Linked DNA regions of Homo sapiens. The protein of the gene in region 3 purifies or fractionates together with the protein of the main gene of each other region. This does not show direct contact. Each region holds a gene or a part of one and is shown on either strand. Other genes may lie near its edges.

What was found.
Region 1: the proteins of ARHGEF28 (region 3) and POC1A purify together in Homo sapiens (co-immunoprecipitation; one large-scale study listed by IntAct). This does not show direct contact.
Region 2: the proteins of ARHGEF28 (region 3) and CRYBB3 purify together in Homo sapiens (co-immunoprecipitation; one large-scale study listed by IntAct). This does not show direct contact.
Region 4: the proteins of ARHGEF28 (region 3) and SMC3 purify together in Homo sapiens (co-immunoprecipitation; one large-scale study listed by IntAct). This does not show direct contact.
Region 5: the proteins of ARHGEF28 (region 3) and FAM174A purify together in Homo sapiens (co-immunoprecipitation; one large-scale study listed by IntAct). This does not show direct contact.

The regions. Positions count from the first base shown.
Region 1 is NC_000003.12:52,078,072-52,081,445, forward strand, and holds part of POC1A (POC1 centriolar protein homolog A), read right to left. Parts: intron 1-3,374.
Region 2 is NC_000022.11:25,205,346-25,207,871, forward strand, and holds the end of CRYBB3 (beta-crystallin B3), read left to right. Parts: coding exon 1-17; intron 18-1,701; coding exon 1,702-1,867; 3' UTR 1,868-2,014; downstream 2,015-2,526. UniProt on the Homo sapiens protein: Crystallins are the dominant structural components of the vertebrate eye lens.
Region 3 is NC_000005.10:73,937,176-73,939,847, reverse strand, and holds part of ARHGEF28 (rho guanine nucleotide exchange factor 28), read right to left. Parts: intron 1-2,672. UniProt on the Homo sapiens protein: Functions as a RHOA-specific guanine nucleotide exchange factor regulating signaling pathways downstream of integrins and growth factor receptors. Functions in axonal branching, synapse formation and dendritic morphogenesis.
Region 4 is NC_000010.11:110,570,671-110,574,195, reverse strand, and holds part of SMC3 (structural maintenance of chromosomes protein 3), read right to left. Parts: intron 490-3,525; coding exon 451-489; intron 1-450. UniProt on the Homo sapiens protein: Central component of cohesin, a complex required for chromosome cohesion during the cell cycle. The cohesin complex may form a large proteinaceous ring within which sister chromatids can be trapped.
Region 5 is NC_000005.10:100,562,849-100,566,373, reverse strand, and holds part of FAM174A (membrane protein FAM174A precursor), read right to left. Parts: intron 1-3,525.

The DNA.
Region 1 (3,374 bases), on a different chromosome or scaffold from region 3:
CACAGTAGACAAACAGGCTTTTATGAGGCCCAACACCCCTCAAGGCAGTTTCTCCCCCTCCAGCCTAGCTTCAGAGGAGCTGTGTCATCTCTGTGTTTGGTCTCAGCTTCCCCTGTTCCTTCTCTGCCAAGGTGCCTCGTGGTGGCCACCATCAGGGAGAAAGAAGTCCAACCAGGCCCTTCCCAGCACACGTGATCCCAGCTGCCCCCACTCTGAGCCAGGAGAAGGCCTGGGAGAGCAGGATGCTTTTTGGATTTCTGTACATTAGAATGCTGTCTGGCACTCTTTGCTCCATGTAGTTAAAAAAAAAAAATCCTACTTTCTTAAAAATTTTTATATTTTTCTTAAAAATCAAATTTTCTTAATAAAGCATAGGACCTCATTTTCACAGAAAATGGTGACTCCTCATAGACAGTGAAACATGGAAATCTCTTTTTTTTTTTTTTTTTTTTTTTTTAAGACTGAGTCTCGTTCTGTCGACCCGGCTGAAGTGCAGTGGCGCGATCTCGGCTCACGACAAGCTCCGCCTCCCGGGTTCATGCCATTCTCCTGCCTCAGCCTCCCGAGTAGCTGGGACTACAGGCACCCGCCACTGCGCCCAGCTAATATTTTTGTATTTTTAGTATAGACGGGGTTTCACCGTGGTCTCGATCTCCTGACCTCGTGATCCGCCCGGCTCAGCCTCCCAAAATGTTGGGATTACAGGCGTGAGCCCCTGCGCCCGGCTGAAACATGGAAATCTGAAATGCTGCTGGTGTGCCTTCCCTCTACAAGGGGAAGGAAGGGGTTCCCCCATGATGGAAATGCCCCACTGGGCATCCAAGTGGCAAAGTGGAGACACACTCAGGGCTGGTGGCACACACAGGCAGGAGGGCTGGCAGGCCACCTGCAGGGAGTCTGTCTGGGCCACAGGCCCAGAGCAGCCAGGACAGGCCATCACAGTGCCACCGTGCTTCCCCAGCTGCACGGGAGCTGTGGGAGGAGGGCAGGAGAGCATCTGAGGTGGCAGAAGGGGTGTGTGGGGAGTACCCCTGGCACAGACTGGTTTGGAGCCATATCACGTGGCCTTGTTCAGAATGTATATGATCTTTACCTGTCGGTTCACAACAAAAAGTAAGCACATCCCCACATACCCATACGAGGGTTCAGAAAATACATGCTACCTCGGTGTACACAGGCCACTGCCATTTCCACCTGCTGCCTAGTGGCCCAACTCCCAGCGGGGCCCAGCCAAGCAGGCTGCTCTCGTCGCCTCATGCTCCGTCCAGCCCGGGAATTATCCTGCTACCAGCGCCTGTCCTCACCAGGCTGGAGACAAGGCCACACCTGCCCTGGAGGGTGAGGAGGAGCGCTCTGCAGGCAAATACCTCTGCGGCCTCCCCGGGTCCACACTCCATGGCCTGGAAGCCACGACTTTCATTTATTCAAGGAAAAATGAGCGCTGACCTTCCAAACAGTTCCTTGATCACACTGCCTCTCACCCTGTGCTCTGTACAGGGGAGCAGGGGCCAGAGGTCTGGTCCTAGCCCCTCAGAAGGTCCCCAAAGAGGTACAGGCTGTGTCAGGTGCCAGGTGTCAACAAGGGAAACTGCTTTGCCTGACACAAGCGTCCATGGCTTCTGGCTTTGGGGCAGGGTAAAGGGAAACTGACGAAGGGGTTGAGGAGTCCAGGGCTCTGGCTGCTAGAGGGGCAGCCTGGGCAAAGTGGCCAGGAAAGATGGCCCATCTCCCAGAACTCCCTCTTGCTGGGGTCCAACTCTTCCACAGTGCGGCCCCTTCTGTCTGCTGACCTTGGAGAAACCAGGCAGCTCATTCCCTTTCCTTGGACCTGGTGCTACCCTGGGAACATTCTTAAGTCCTCCATGTAATTGGGGTGTGGAGCTTAAACATGAGGGGGACCAGCAGGAGGTCCTGGGACTGGGCTCAGGGCGGTTCACCCTGATCATTGACCCTCTGCTCTGTGGGCTTCTCTTGGCAGCTGACTTTCACGGGACGCTCGTGTGTGCCAAAAACTTCAACAAACCTTCAGCGTGGGAGCTTTTATCATCCCCATTTTACAGATGAAGAAACTGAGGCACAGTGAGATTAAGTAACTTGCCTAAAGTTACACAGCTTATCAGTGACAAGCCTAGGCTGTGAGCCTAGGTGGCCTGGCTGCAGTGAGCACACTAAAGCACTGGGTAGTGTGCATCTTGGCTCTGTCCCCATCAAGAATGCCAAAGGAGAGGCCTGCTGGTGTCCCATCCCACTTCCAGCCCTGATGCCCAAACTCAGGCAGCCTGAGGAAAGACTAGGGGATCCCTGTCCTCACCCAGCAGCAGCACCTGCTGTCCTGGTTTAGGCTGCCTGGCCTAGCTGCTCTGAATTAAATGAGCAGAAACTCCTACCTCAGCCACAGTGGGAATGGACAGCCCCCAGGGTCACCCACCCCCTCACATTGTCAGGCCTCATGTGTCACCTCCCCCTGAAAAGCAGTCTCTTACCTGGCTAAACATTTAGGTTTGGAATTATTACAAAGGTCATAAGGATAATTCATGTGAGCCATGAAAACTCAATATTATAGGAACCGAAAGGACATAGTGACAAGAACCTCCTCCTGGATGCACCACGAGAAGCTGCCCCAATCACTTCACTGTCAACGCTTCTTTCACTGGCACTTGTGCCACTGCAGCATTAAGTGATCAGCCCCAAAACATGCTGTGGAACTCGCCTGGGTCACTGCTGGGTGGCCCATCCCCTGAAGACAAGGTTCAACTTTAAACAAGGTACCTCTCTCTCCCTAAATCGGAGTGACAGGAAGCCGGATTGAGGACCCTATGGCCTGGGCACTGTCACTCCTCACCCGATACTGTCCGCCTCCCAAGTCAAGGCCCTCATGGCCAGTGTCAGGAAGCCTCATGGGGTGTGGTCAGCAGGGCTCCAGAAGTTTTATCTTCAAAGTCACATCTGCCGAGGTTCACCTGGGGGCTCATTTCTGAACCCTTTTCCTACTCTGTTACCAGCAATTTCCTGGAAGCCATGGCCCTTCTCAAGAAAGCCTTGGCCTTAAAATCACTTGTTTGCCATCGAATGTATTCTGTTGTTTCTCTAGACCAAGGGTTAGCAAACTACGGCCGGCTGCCCCTTTGTGTAAATAAGGTTTTATGGACACGCCTGCTGGCTTCCGTATGGTCTCTGGCTGCCTTCTGGGTCCAGCGACAGGTTGACAGAGGCTGTATGGTCCACAAAGCCTAAAATCTTTACTGTTTAAATTTGCTGACCCTTGCCCTCGCTCTTCCCTTACTCAAACTCTCACAAAGCACCTCCCCAACGCTGGCCTGTGCCTGGCCCAGGATGATAATACGCAGACTCGGCTGAGCCCACAGGGTGCACCA
Region 2 (2,526 bases), on a different chromosome or scaffold from region 3:
CGTGCCATCAACGGGACGTAAGGGACCCAACCCTCACCCTTGCCCCATCTTCTGGTCAGCCATGCCTCTGGCTCCAAACAGAATCAGTGCCCATAGTTTCTTATTATTTTATTTATTTATTTATTTATTTTTGAGACGGAGTCTTGCTCTGTCGCCCAGGCTGGAGTGCAGTGGCGCGATCTCAGCTCACTGCAAGCTCCGCCTCCCGGGTTCATGCCATTCTCCTGCCTCAGCCTCCCGAGTAGCTGGGACTACAGGCGCCCACGACCACGCCCGGCTAAGTTTTTGTATTTTTAGTAGAGACGGGGTTTCACCGTGTTAGCCAGGATGGTCTCAATCTCCTGACCTCATGATCTGCCCGCCTCGGCCTCCCAAAGTGCTGGGATTACAGGTGTGAGCCACGGCGCCCGGCCATCGGTGCCTATAGTTTCTTGCATGATTCATGTTCCCTGCACTCCTGTACTGTTGAGATTTCTAGGCAGCCTTGACTTAAAACAAGTAAAATCTGTTCTCTCCACCTGTTCCCATCTGAGTCCTTCCTGCTTTTTTAAACATCCCCACACCCTTGAACTGATTCTTGAAATGTTCTTCCCCCTCACAACTCTTGTTCTTCTTAACAAGGGGCCCAGGATGTATGCAGTTATTGAGATGTGACACAAGTTGTACAGAGGAGAGCAGGCTTATCACCTCCCTCTTTCTAGGCTTAATATCACCGTTGATGCAGTCTTAGGATCACCTGCTTTTTGTAGGTGGTTACATCTCACTTGTGGGCTTGTAATCTGGGGTTGGGCCTTGAGAGGTGCCACCTATCCCTGATAATAATTTATTCAACAATTTTTTACTGAACATCTACTATATGCTGGTGTGCTGATACAGAGAACAACAAGAATGGCACATCCTCTGGCCCTCAAAAAATTTGCGTAGTCTGGGGCTCACGCCTGTAATCCCAGCACTTTGGGAGGCCGAAGTGGGCGGATCACCTGAGGTCAGGAGTTCATGACCAGCCTGACCACCACGGAGAAACCCCGTCTCTACTAAAAATACAAAATTAGCCGGGCATGGTGGCGCATGCCTGTAATCCCAGCTACTCAAGAGGCTGAGGCAGGAGAATCACTTGAACCTGGGAGGTGGAGGTTGTAGTGAGCCGAGATCACGCCACTGCACTCCAGCCTGAGCAACAAGAGCGAAACTCCATCTAAAAAAAGAAAAATTACATAGTTTGATGGAGAGACAGACAAAGTAACAGGTATTCACAACGTATTGTGATCAGGATTGGGACTGGGATGCACAAGGGGCTCTGGGAGTCCCAGTGAGGTACTCGATTCAGCCTGCAGGAGTCTGGAGACATCTAAATTGAGCTGTAATGGATGCAAGTGGAAAAAAGGGGGAAGGAGAGGGATGAGGTGAGCAAGAGTGTTCCAGGCAGAAGGAATCATGCATACAAAGGCCCCCCAACACAGCAGGTTCCGGGAAAGTAGAATAAGAGAGGCCACGGTGTTGAGTGTGAATGGGATGTTGAGAGATAAGGCTAGAGATGCTTTGTTAAGGGTCCTGTGAGCAGGGTAAAGAGTTTGGATTCATCCCAAGGGCTCTGGGGAGCTAAAGAGGAATGTAGGCAGGCAGAGTGCATGGTCAGATGCTGGCTGGAGGCAGGGTGACTGGAAGCAGACCGTCCACATCTCAACCTTGGTCTCCCGGCAGGTGGGTTGGCTATGAGTTCCCCGGCTACCGTGGGCGCCAGTACGTGTTTGAGCGGGGCGAGTACCGCCACTGGAATGAGTGGGACGCCAGCCAGCCGCAGCTGCAGTCTGTGCGCCGCATCCGTGACCAGAAGTGGCACAAGCGGGGCCGCTTCCCCAGCAGCTGAAAGGCACCCAGACTTCAAGGACCCAGACCCACCCTGGGGGGCTGCAAGGGCAAGAAGAGGAGGCTCCAGGGTTGGGGCGAGGGCCGACCTGTCCACCCTTCCCTGGAATCTGCTCAATAAAGCCTGGGGTTGGTCCCCCACCCGCCACGTTCCTCGGCATCACTTCCTGAGGGAGCCAGGCCTGGGGCGGGACCTGTGGGAGAGGCGTGCTGAAGGAGGCTGGGGCTTGAGTGTTCTGAGACTCCCAGGAAGGGGCTGGGAAATTTGCCCATATCCTAGGCTCTAATCCTTTCAGGCAGAGCCATGTGCCCCTACTGCCCTGATCTTGTGTTTGTCTGCTGCTGCATGTTTCCATCTGAATGTCTGTCAGTCTGCCCATCCACTCACCCATCCATCCATCATCCTTCCACCCACCCACCCACCCATTCATCCACCCATTCACCCACTCATGTGCCCATCCATTCGTCTACTCACCCATCCATCCATCCATCCACCCACCCATTCATCCACCCATTCACCCACCCATGTGCCCATCCATTCATCTACTCACCCATCCATCCATCCACCCACCCACCCATCTACCCATTCATTCATCCATCCAACTACCTACCACCCATTCATCCATCCATGCATCCATCCATCCATCCATTCATCCACCC
Region 3 (2,672 bases):
CCACATTTTCTTCAAAGCCTCTATTATTTAGATGGATATACACACGTGCAGACATTCCAATGACACAAATGCTTGTGGCCTTTGCCCTCCTGACAAGGATCTTTGGTTGCTAGAGAAGGCAGTAAGCAAGGCTTGGCAGGAATGAAAGGAAAACTCTTCCCAGAAGGCTCCATCTTTGGGGACATGGTGGCCTTGCCACACCTCATTTCATCCCATCTTCCAGTAGGAGGTGGGTCAATGGAGGAGGAGCAGCCAGGGCCACAGGAGCCGATGAAGGTCCCTGGAGGAGCTGCACCAAGGCTGGACTGTGCCTCTGAAGCAAAGGAGGACCCTCAAGGCAGGGGAGGGGAGGAAGAGAGGTAGGGAGGCATGGGGGTGAGGCTGCAACCACAGCTCTGCTCAAAGGCTTAGCCCATCCCTGACCCTTTAGATGCCAATAGGCACAAAGCTTGATTCTACTGCCCCTGATCCTAAATGCTGTACCTCAAATTCCAGGAACTCACTAACAACTGAAAGCATACCTGCAGAAGGTGCCTCTAACTGCCACCATTTACAGAGCACAGGAGTTGTCCCAGGTCTTTTACATTCGTCATCTCTCTCTAAGTCTCAAAATGCTAAAACCCACAATTTACAGGCTGGGAAACCGAGGCTCAGGCTAGTGAAATTCTGACCCACATCATGCAGCTAGGAAGTGATCTGGATCTACGCTCAGAGGATGGCAGCCACGTGATGACTCCTTGCTCTAATGATCAAGACTCTCGTGCTTCTCATTTCTCTTTGTGCTGAAAATGGCTTGGCCATCTTTTCTGAATTAAGAGATCCTCAATGTTTAATACTTTCCCTCCCTTACATACTACATTTTGAAGAGTCACTTGCCAAAAAAAAGAAGAAAGCAAAGGCAAAAAAAAAAAAAAAAGACATATTAATGTTAAGCTTCTCAAAACTGACACAGCAATTGTTATAGAACTAGGAACCTCCCTTAATCGGGCGAACAAAAATATTCCCAGGCAATGATTTCCTTGTCAGGGCAACATTACAAATCAACCTGGAATGCTCTGAATCCTATTTTACCACACTGGGAGACAAAGCATGCCTGTGGTCACAACACGCAGTCACACTTCCAATTCCTTTTCCCAGCCATAGACTGAAGCTATTTCACCTCTAAATACAAATATGCACAGCTAAATTGCTGATGTTTAATTTTATACAACTTCAAAAAAATGCCCCCAAATTTCCATCGAGCAGACACTGGCAGACTGAACAGGTCACCAAAGCCACAACAGTCCTGCCTCCTTACCAACAGAAGGGCCAGCCAGAGCACAAAAATTACTACATTGAGGATGAAAAATCATCCAGTGAATGAGGCAGCTGGGAGGTCATTGCTGACACATCTGACAATGCCGGACACACTGGAAGCCCTTAATCTATGTAGGTTTTCTTCATCTGGGGTGTGAAACATGGAGCAAAAAATTCAAAATAGTGATATTTTGAGGTACATGGAAAATCCCCTTAATGGCTTCAAGAGAAGACTTGTTCAAAACAGCCAAATTGAATATATATCAGAAATAACTCTTTTTTAAGTTACATTGTATGCTCTACTTCAAGAAGATACAGAACCAAGAATGAACGGGGATGGGGATGGGGAGTTGTGTGTGTGTGTGTGTGTGTGTGTGTGTGTGTGTGTGTGGTGTAGTGTAGAAGTTTAATCAGAACTTTTTCAAATAAGAATAAAAATACAGGAGAAACACATTCCTAGGTGAGAGCTTGTTGTGCCCTAAGGTGAACAGCCCATGTTGTAATTCCAGATGTATTACTGGAGGTGGTTGTGGTTGTATGTCACCTGGACGGGAACTCAATTTCCTTCTCCATGTTCCTTCTTGGTTTCTACCTGAACTATGTAGGCAAGGTCAGACAGTCTGTCTTTGAAATTAGAAACCGTTTGGTGATTTCTGATTTTGTTACTCCATTTCAACTCTGAAAGAACCAGCACAGCAATTGTATATTTCTCAAGGCCAGCCACCTTTTTCCACACTTTTTACCCTAGAGAATATGATCATCATATAGAACCCTAAACTGAAAAAACATTTGTTAATATTAAACCTCACTGACTCAGAAAGCAGAATTCTTGCTATATAAAAGTAATCACCCAGTTTCATTTGTGATCGAATTGCCTGTAAATCGATGGACATAAAAATGTAATAACATATTTCTAATAAGCAAGGAAATAGCAATACAATCATAATTTGGTCAACTAAAAACGAATATTATTATAATGAAACAAAACTCAAACTACAAAAAAACATTTCAGCCAAGTATCTCAACACAATTTTGCCTCTTGACATAAAAGAAATAATTTGATCCCTAACATTATCTCTGGAAACTAAACAGAGCGAGCATTATTAACCTTTAGAGCAAATAAGCTAAAACACATAAAAGCCCCAAAGCCTGACTAAACCAAGTAGAAAAGTGGGATCTTGATTGAGAGTTTTTTCTGCTACATTACTGAGCTTTTGTTCACAAACTAAAATTTCAGCCTCTGCAGGAAACTTCGATACTCACATTATGAGGACCACCGTGGGGGGTCTAAGTTAGTCTCCTAACATGGTTTCAAAAAATTACAGGTATCCACATTTTGGCTGGCACCATTCCTTTTCTTTGTGGGCATGTGGGAC
Region 4 (3,525 bases), on a different chromosome or scaffold from region 3:
TTTCAAAAAGGTGAAATAAGAAAGATGAACAATTTTCCAAAACAATACTATCAACTATTCTACTGCATTTACATACGTTTAAAATATGCATTTATAACATTTATATATTACATTCAAGTTTAAAAAGCATTTTCATACATACTATTGCATTCCATTCTTACAAACCATCTAAGGTAGACAGGGCAAACATCCAAACATCTCCATTTTTAAAGTGAAAAGAAAAATTTGAGAGGCTACGTGTTTTGCCCACTCTCACACAGCTAATCAGCCACTGGGTATAAAGCAGAATTCAGATCTGTATACTCTAAACCCTCTACACTAAGCTGCAACCCCATATAAAGTATTTCTTGGGTTTCATGAATACATAACCTCAGAAAATTAATGATTTTAATAATCTACCCTAAGATACCCAGGTCTTAATATATTTACAATTCAAAAAGCAACACCTACCATAAAAAAAGTTACTTTTTCCAGATCCATTTCTGCCCACTGGAAAATTTCAAAAAGTACAAGTTATTTTACATAAAAACCAATAAAATTAAAACTGTTTACCTTTTTAAAAATACTCAATATTTTTAAAATCCAATTTTCTAATACATCTTAACATCTGAAATTAAACAGTGAACAAAAGAAACCAATAAAACAACTATAATCACCAAATAAATTCAATTTTTGTACAGACTTCTAATAGTTTTTTCTTTAAAGATATTTCACAGTTGATCCGTTTGCTCTTACCCAATAGTTTAAAATGAATAGGAATAGCTAAATATACTACCTGGCTCTTATATCATATTACAATGGATATATAATTCTATTTTAACTATATATGTTTAACAATTTAAAGATTCATATATTGCTAACGTTCTAAAATAATCATTTTAAATCCTTAAAGTGTTCTCATGTTTAAAATCAACCCTATATTATCATGTGTAGTCTCACAGAACCACAAAAATATAAATAATTTTAAGGTACTTTTTGACTAACAAAATTCAAATATAAGCAATTCAATACGTAAAAGGGTATCAAATCCTTTTAAGTGTGTTTAGTGAAATTTTCAGTGTTAAGACTCATAAATAACTATGTCAGTCTTCTCACTCTTGAGCCAGAAATATCCTGAGCAAATTAACCACAAAGTTACCACCTTTAATGCAAAGTAAATCTCAAAAAGATCATTCATGTCATGCCAGAAAGGATGTACTTTTTAAAAAAACGCATATGACAGACACAGGAGCCAGCTTGAAGGGGCCTTTCAGTAGCTAAAACTAGGGGTAATCTGAGCATCAAAATGGCCAAATAAATTATAAATTATTGGTGGGGGGAATAATCCATGCATCCATACCAATAATAAAAAGATAAATAAGTAGGTAAGGAAGGAGGAGAATTACCAAATGCCAAGTTGTAAATGTGAAAGGAGTGCTGGAAATGAAAAATCATTTTGTGACCGTCAGAATAAAGGCAAGGGTCATCAACAGATGGTAAATGCAGGCACAAAGTTTGAAAAGGAGCACAAGATTTACATGGTCCAAAAGCATCTGCCTATATTACTTATTAGCTGCAAGGGAAAAAATAATACCTACACAGTGGAAACATTAGACCTTGACTGGGTGATCAAAAGTAATATCATCAATAAGAGTCAGACAGACCTCATGTGCCTCCAGATGTGATATCCTGAGAGGGACACAACATCACTTATGTCTTAATTCTCAAAAATAACAATGTTATAAAAGACAAAGGAAGGCTGTGGAAATGATCCAGATTAAAGGAGACTAAAGAAGCATGACAACTATGCAATACCTGCTCCTAAATTAGATCCTGTACTGGAGGGGGAAAAATGCTATCAAGAACACTTCTGGGTCAGTCAACATAACTGGAAAATGGACAGATTACTATGTATTAAATTTACTTAAGTTGTAAATTGTACTGTGATTATGAAAGAGAACATCCCTCCTCTTAGAAAGTACACATTAAAGTCAGAGGTAAAGGACCATGGTGTAAATAACTTTAAGGAAAAAGGTGTGTAAAAAGTGGAAATGATACAGCAAGTGGGGAAAATGTTAACAACAGGTGAATCTAGGTAAAGGGTTTATGAGTAGTCTCTGAACAGTTCTTATTGGGGAAATTTTTCTGTAAATTTGAAACTATTTCTAAATAAAAGTTTAAGATGACAATTTATCATTAAATGAATAAATATTTCAAACCACAATCCATCTATAAATAACTGAAATTTTAAGAATTTCCTTTTAAGAATTACTGCTAGAGTGGAACACTATATAGCAATTTTAAAGGATGCTGAATATTTAATAAAGATATTTCAAGATTTATCCTGAAGGAGAATAACAGATTACCAGTAAGTTATATGATGAACCCATTTTTTATTTAAAAATGAACCCATTTTTATTTAAAAATGAACCCATTTTTATTTAAATATATATTAAAAAGATGTATACAAAGACTAAAAACGTACTGAGGTAAACACAGTTTATATGTGGCCCCAGATTCACCTTTCTCAACCCAGGCCTTGGCTGCCAATCAATGGAAAAGCTCAGTCTCCTAATACCTCTGGTAGATTCAAGCTACCTTGGGAGTACATTCAGGTACTCCTGAATTGTGAACATGGAAAGGAGGCTATAACTCCCTGACTACTTCCGGGTGTTAGTTCCCAGAGCACCACAATCCAAAAGCTTGGAGGCATCAATGCCAGATGTAGAAAACTTTGACCAATGAAAGACAGGTGCCTGCAAACAAATCCTTGTCAGAATCCAAATCCATTCCTCTATCATCTGACCTTTCTAAGGTATGGTGGGTCCACAAAGTCTGTGAGTTATTTAACATGACTGCAAACCACCTGTCTCTTCTTTAGAAATCTATGACCAGCTTTTCTCTTCATTCTTGCCCTCAAACTGCACCTCCCATCAAAGCCTTAGCAGCTAATCCTGTCTGTGCTGTTTTCTAGGAAACCAGGACTAATCACAAGTATAGACTGTTATTATTAAGAATGGTTATCTCTGAAGAATCATGGTGTGCAGTAAAAAACAAAGAATGGTTATCTCTGAGTAAAAGGATTATAGTTTATCTTAATTTTCTTCCTTTTAGCTTTTCCATAATGTTCTATAACATGTATTTCTTTTGTTAAAGGTTAGGGGGAAAAAAATCCCTAAAAACGTATATGTTTGATGCATATACCCAACATCAGTACAAGAGATATTTTTTAATAGTCAACATCATTCATCAATCAAAGTGGTATGCTTTCACCAGATATTTTTAAGGCAAATCTCAGTACCTAACTACTTTTGGTCTTTCTTACATTATGTCTTACAACGTGTCTGGTTTTAAAATATGTTTAATCAGTACTGTTATCTTGGGTTCATTTGTTTTAGTTAAACAAAACCATTTTCCTTTGTAACAGTGACTATTAACAAATCTAATGCTGCAATCACAGAGGTAACACAACTAACTGATAACAGCTAAAACAATGGTATTTGATGGACCTTATAGACAAAATGTAATCATTCTAGCTAGTAAGTT
Region 5 (3,525 bases), about 27 Mb from region 3:
TCACTACTATAAGCTTGACTATTTAGATTCCATATATAAGTGAGATAATGCAATATCTGTCTTTCTATGTTTGGATTGTTTCAAATAACATAAATTCCTCCATGTTCATCCATGTTGTTGCAAATGTCCAGATTTTCTTTTTTTTAAGGCTGAATAATATTCAATAGTATATCATACATGTAATTATATATATTATATGTACATATATATATATATATATATATATATATATCATACTTTTCAAATTCATTTATCTGTTGATATGGTTTGGCTGTGCCCCCACCTAAATCTCATCTTGAATTGTAGCTCCCTTAATCCTCAGGTATCATGGAAGGAACCTGGTGGGAGGTAATTGAAACACAGGGGCAAGTTTTTCCCATGCTGTTCTTATGATATTGAATAAGTCTCATGAAATCTGATGGTTTTATAAAGGGTGGTTCCCCTACACATGCTCTCTTGCCTGCCATCATGTAAGATGTGCCTTTGCTCCTCCTTTGCCTACTGCCATGATTGTGAGGCCTCCCTAGCCATGCAGAATTGTGAGTCCATTAAACCTCTTTTTCTTTATAAATTACCCAGTCTCCGATATTTCTTCCAAGCAGTATGAAAACGGACTAATACATCTGTCAATGCACATTTAGGTTATTTCCACAGCTTGATTAATATGAATAATGCTGCAGTGAACATGGGAGTGCAGATCTCTCTATGTAATAATGGTTTCCTTTGGATATATATCCAGCAGCAAAACTGCTAAATCATAAGGTAATTATATTTTTAATTTATTGAGGAATTTCTGTACTGCTTTCCATAACAGCTGTGCCAACTTACATTCCCACCAACAGAGTACAGGGGTCATGTGCCCATTTTAAAATCAGATTATGTGAGATTTTTGGCTATTAACTTACATGCACTCCTTATAAATTTTGGATATTAACTCATATATATATGTATATACATATATGGTTTATAAATATTTTGTCCCATTATTAAAGTTCCTTTTCACTCTGATGATTATCTACTTGGCTGTGCAGAAGCATTTTAGTTTGATGCAACCTCATTTGTCTATGTGGATAGCACTGTCAAATGCTTTTTCTGTGTCTACTGAAATGATCTTGTGGCTTTTTTTCTTTCAACCTATTAATGTGTTCTATTGCATTGATTTGCATGTGTTGAAAGATATTTGCATTCCAGGGACAAATCCCACTTAATCATGGTGTATCATCATTTTAATATGCTGCTGAATTTGGGTAACTAGCATTTTATTGAGGACTTTTGTATCATGTTCATCAGGAGTATTGGCCTGCGGTTTGCTTTCCTTCGTCTGGCTTTGGTATCAGGATAACACTAGCCTCATAAAATGAGTTTTAAAGTGCTTCTTCTTCTATTTGTCAGAATAATTTGAGAAGGACGAGTATTAATTCTTCTTTAAATGTCTGGTATAATTTACCCATGAAGCCATATGGTCTTGGACATTTCTTTGTTGGAAGGTTTTGACTACTGATTCAATTTCCTTATTTGTTACTTGTCTGTTTGGACTTCGAATTTCTTTTTGATTCAAGTTTCATAGATTGTATGTTTCTAGGAATTTATCTATTTTTCTAGGTTATCAAATTTGTTGGCATATAATTGTTCATAGTAGTCTCATGTCTTCTTTAATTTCTGAGGTACCCATTGTAATTTCTTCTCTTTTATTTCTGATTTTATTTATTTGAGCCTTTTCTTTTTTGCTTAGTCTAGCTAATGGTTTATTGATTTTATCTTTTCTATACGCAAAATCTTAATTTTATTGATTTTTCTCATTGTCTTTTTCAACTCTATTTAATGTATTTCTATTATAATCTTAATTATTTCCCTCGTTCTGCTAATTTTAGGCTTAGGCTTAAAGTGTTTTTCTTTTGCCACTTTCTGAAAGGGTAAAGCTAGGTTGTTTATTTGAAGTCTTTCTTCTTTCATAGCATAAGCATTTATTGCTATAAACTTCTCTCCTAGCAATGCTTTTGCTGCATCCCATAAGTTTTGTTATGCCATTTTTTTTTTGTCTCAAAATAGCTCTTAAAATTCCCTTTGATTTCCTATTTGACCCAATAATTGCTCAAGAGTGTGTTGTTCAGTGTATTAGTCCATTCTTTCATTGCTATAAAGACATACCTGAGACTGGGTAATTTATAAAGAAAAGAGGTTTAATTGGCTCGTGGTTCTGCAGACTATACAAGCATGGTGCTGACATCTGCTTGGCTTCTGAGCATATATCAGGGAGCTTTTACTCATGGTGCAAGGTGAAATGGGATCAGGTACTTCAAACGGCAAATATAGGAGCAAGGAGGAGCAGGTGCTACACACTTAAAACAACCACATTTTGCAAGAACTCACTATCACAAGGACAGCACCAAGCCATGAGGGATCAGTCCCCATGACCCAAACATCTCTGACCAGGCTTCAATTTCAGCATGGAGGGTTACAATTGACATGAGATTTGGCCTGGAGGTTTATTCAAACTATATCGTTTAGTTTCCACATATTTATAATTTTTCCTGTTTTCCTGCTGTTATTGATTTCTATTTCTATTCCATGGAGGTTGGAAAAGACACTTGGAATAATTTCAATCTTCTTAAAGTTGTTAAGACTTGTTTTGTGACCTAAGATGATTTATCTCAGAGTGCATCCCATGGGCACTTGAGAAGAATGTGAATTCTTCTGCTGTTGGGTGCAAAGTTCTGTATATGTCTGTCAGGTCCACTGGTCTACAGTGTTGTTTAAGTCAGAGGTTTCTTTATTGATTTTCTGTCTAGATAGTCTATTCATTATTGTAAGTGGGATATTAAAGTCCCATAAATTATTTTATGGCTGTCAATTTCCTACTTCAGATCTGTCAATATTTGCTTTATAATTTAGGTGCTCTGATAGAGTCATACTAATTGTCATATCTTCCTGGTGAATTGACTCCTTTACTATGTAATGATCTTTTTTTTTTTTGTCTCAAGAGATAGTTTTTGACTTAAAATCTAATTTGTCTGATATAAATTTAGCAACCCCTGCTTTGTTTTGGTTACCATTTGCATGGAATATCAGTTTCTGTCCCTTTTCTTTCATCTTATATGCGTCTTTAATTGAAAGTGAGTGCCTGAAGAACAGATGCAATTGTTTTGTTCATGTTTGCCTATTCAGGCTGTAATACTATTAAAATGTATAATTCATGAACATATTTGTATTAAATGAACAAATTATCAGCATTACTAAAAGTTCCTTTGTGTGTGTGCATATATATAAACAGCTTAGATAGATAGATGGATAGACATATATAGATATAAATATAGATATACAGGACTTAGTAGTCCAATTTTTGTTGAGTCATCTTCTTTTCTGTAATCCTAAGATTTCTGTTTTCTTTGCATTTGTACCTGACTCTGGACTCTAATTCTCCTTCACCCAAGTAATCCCTCTGGATTCCAAGATGTCTTTCCTTATTAGGTTGAATCTTTGTTGGCTTTTTTCCCCATTCTATTTACATTGGCATTTATTCTATAC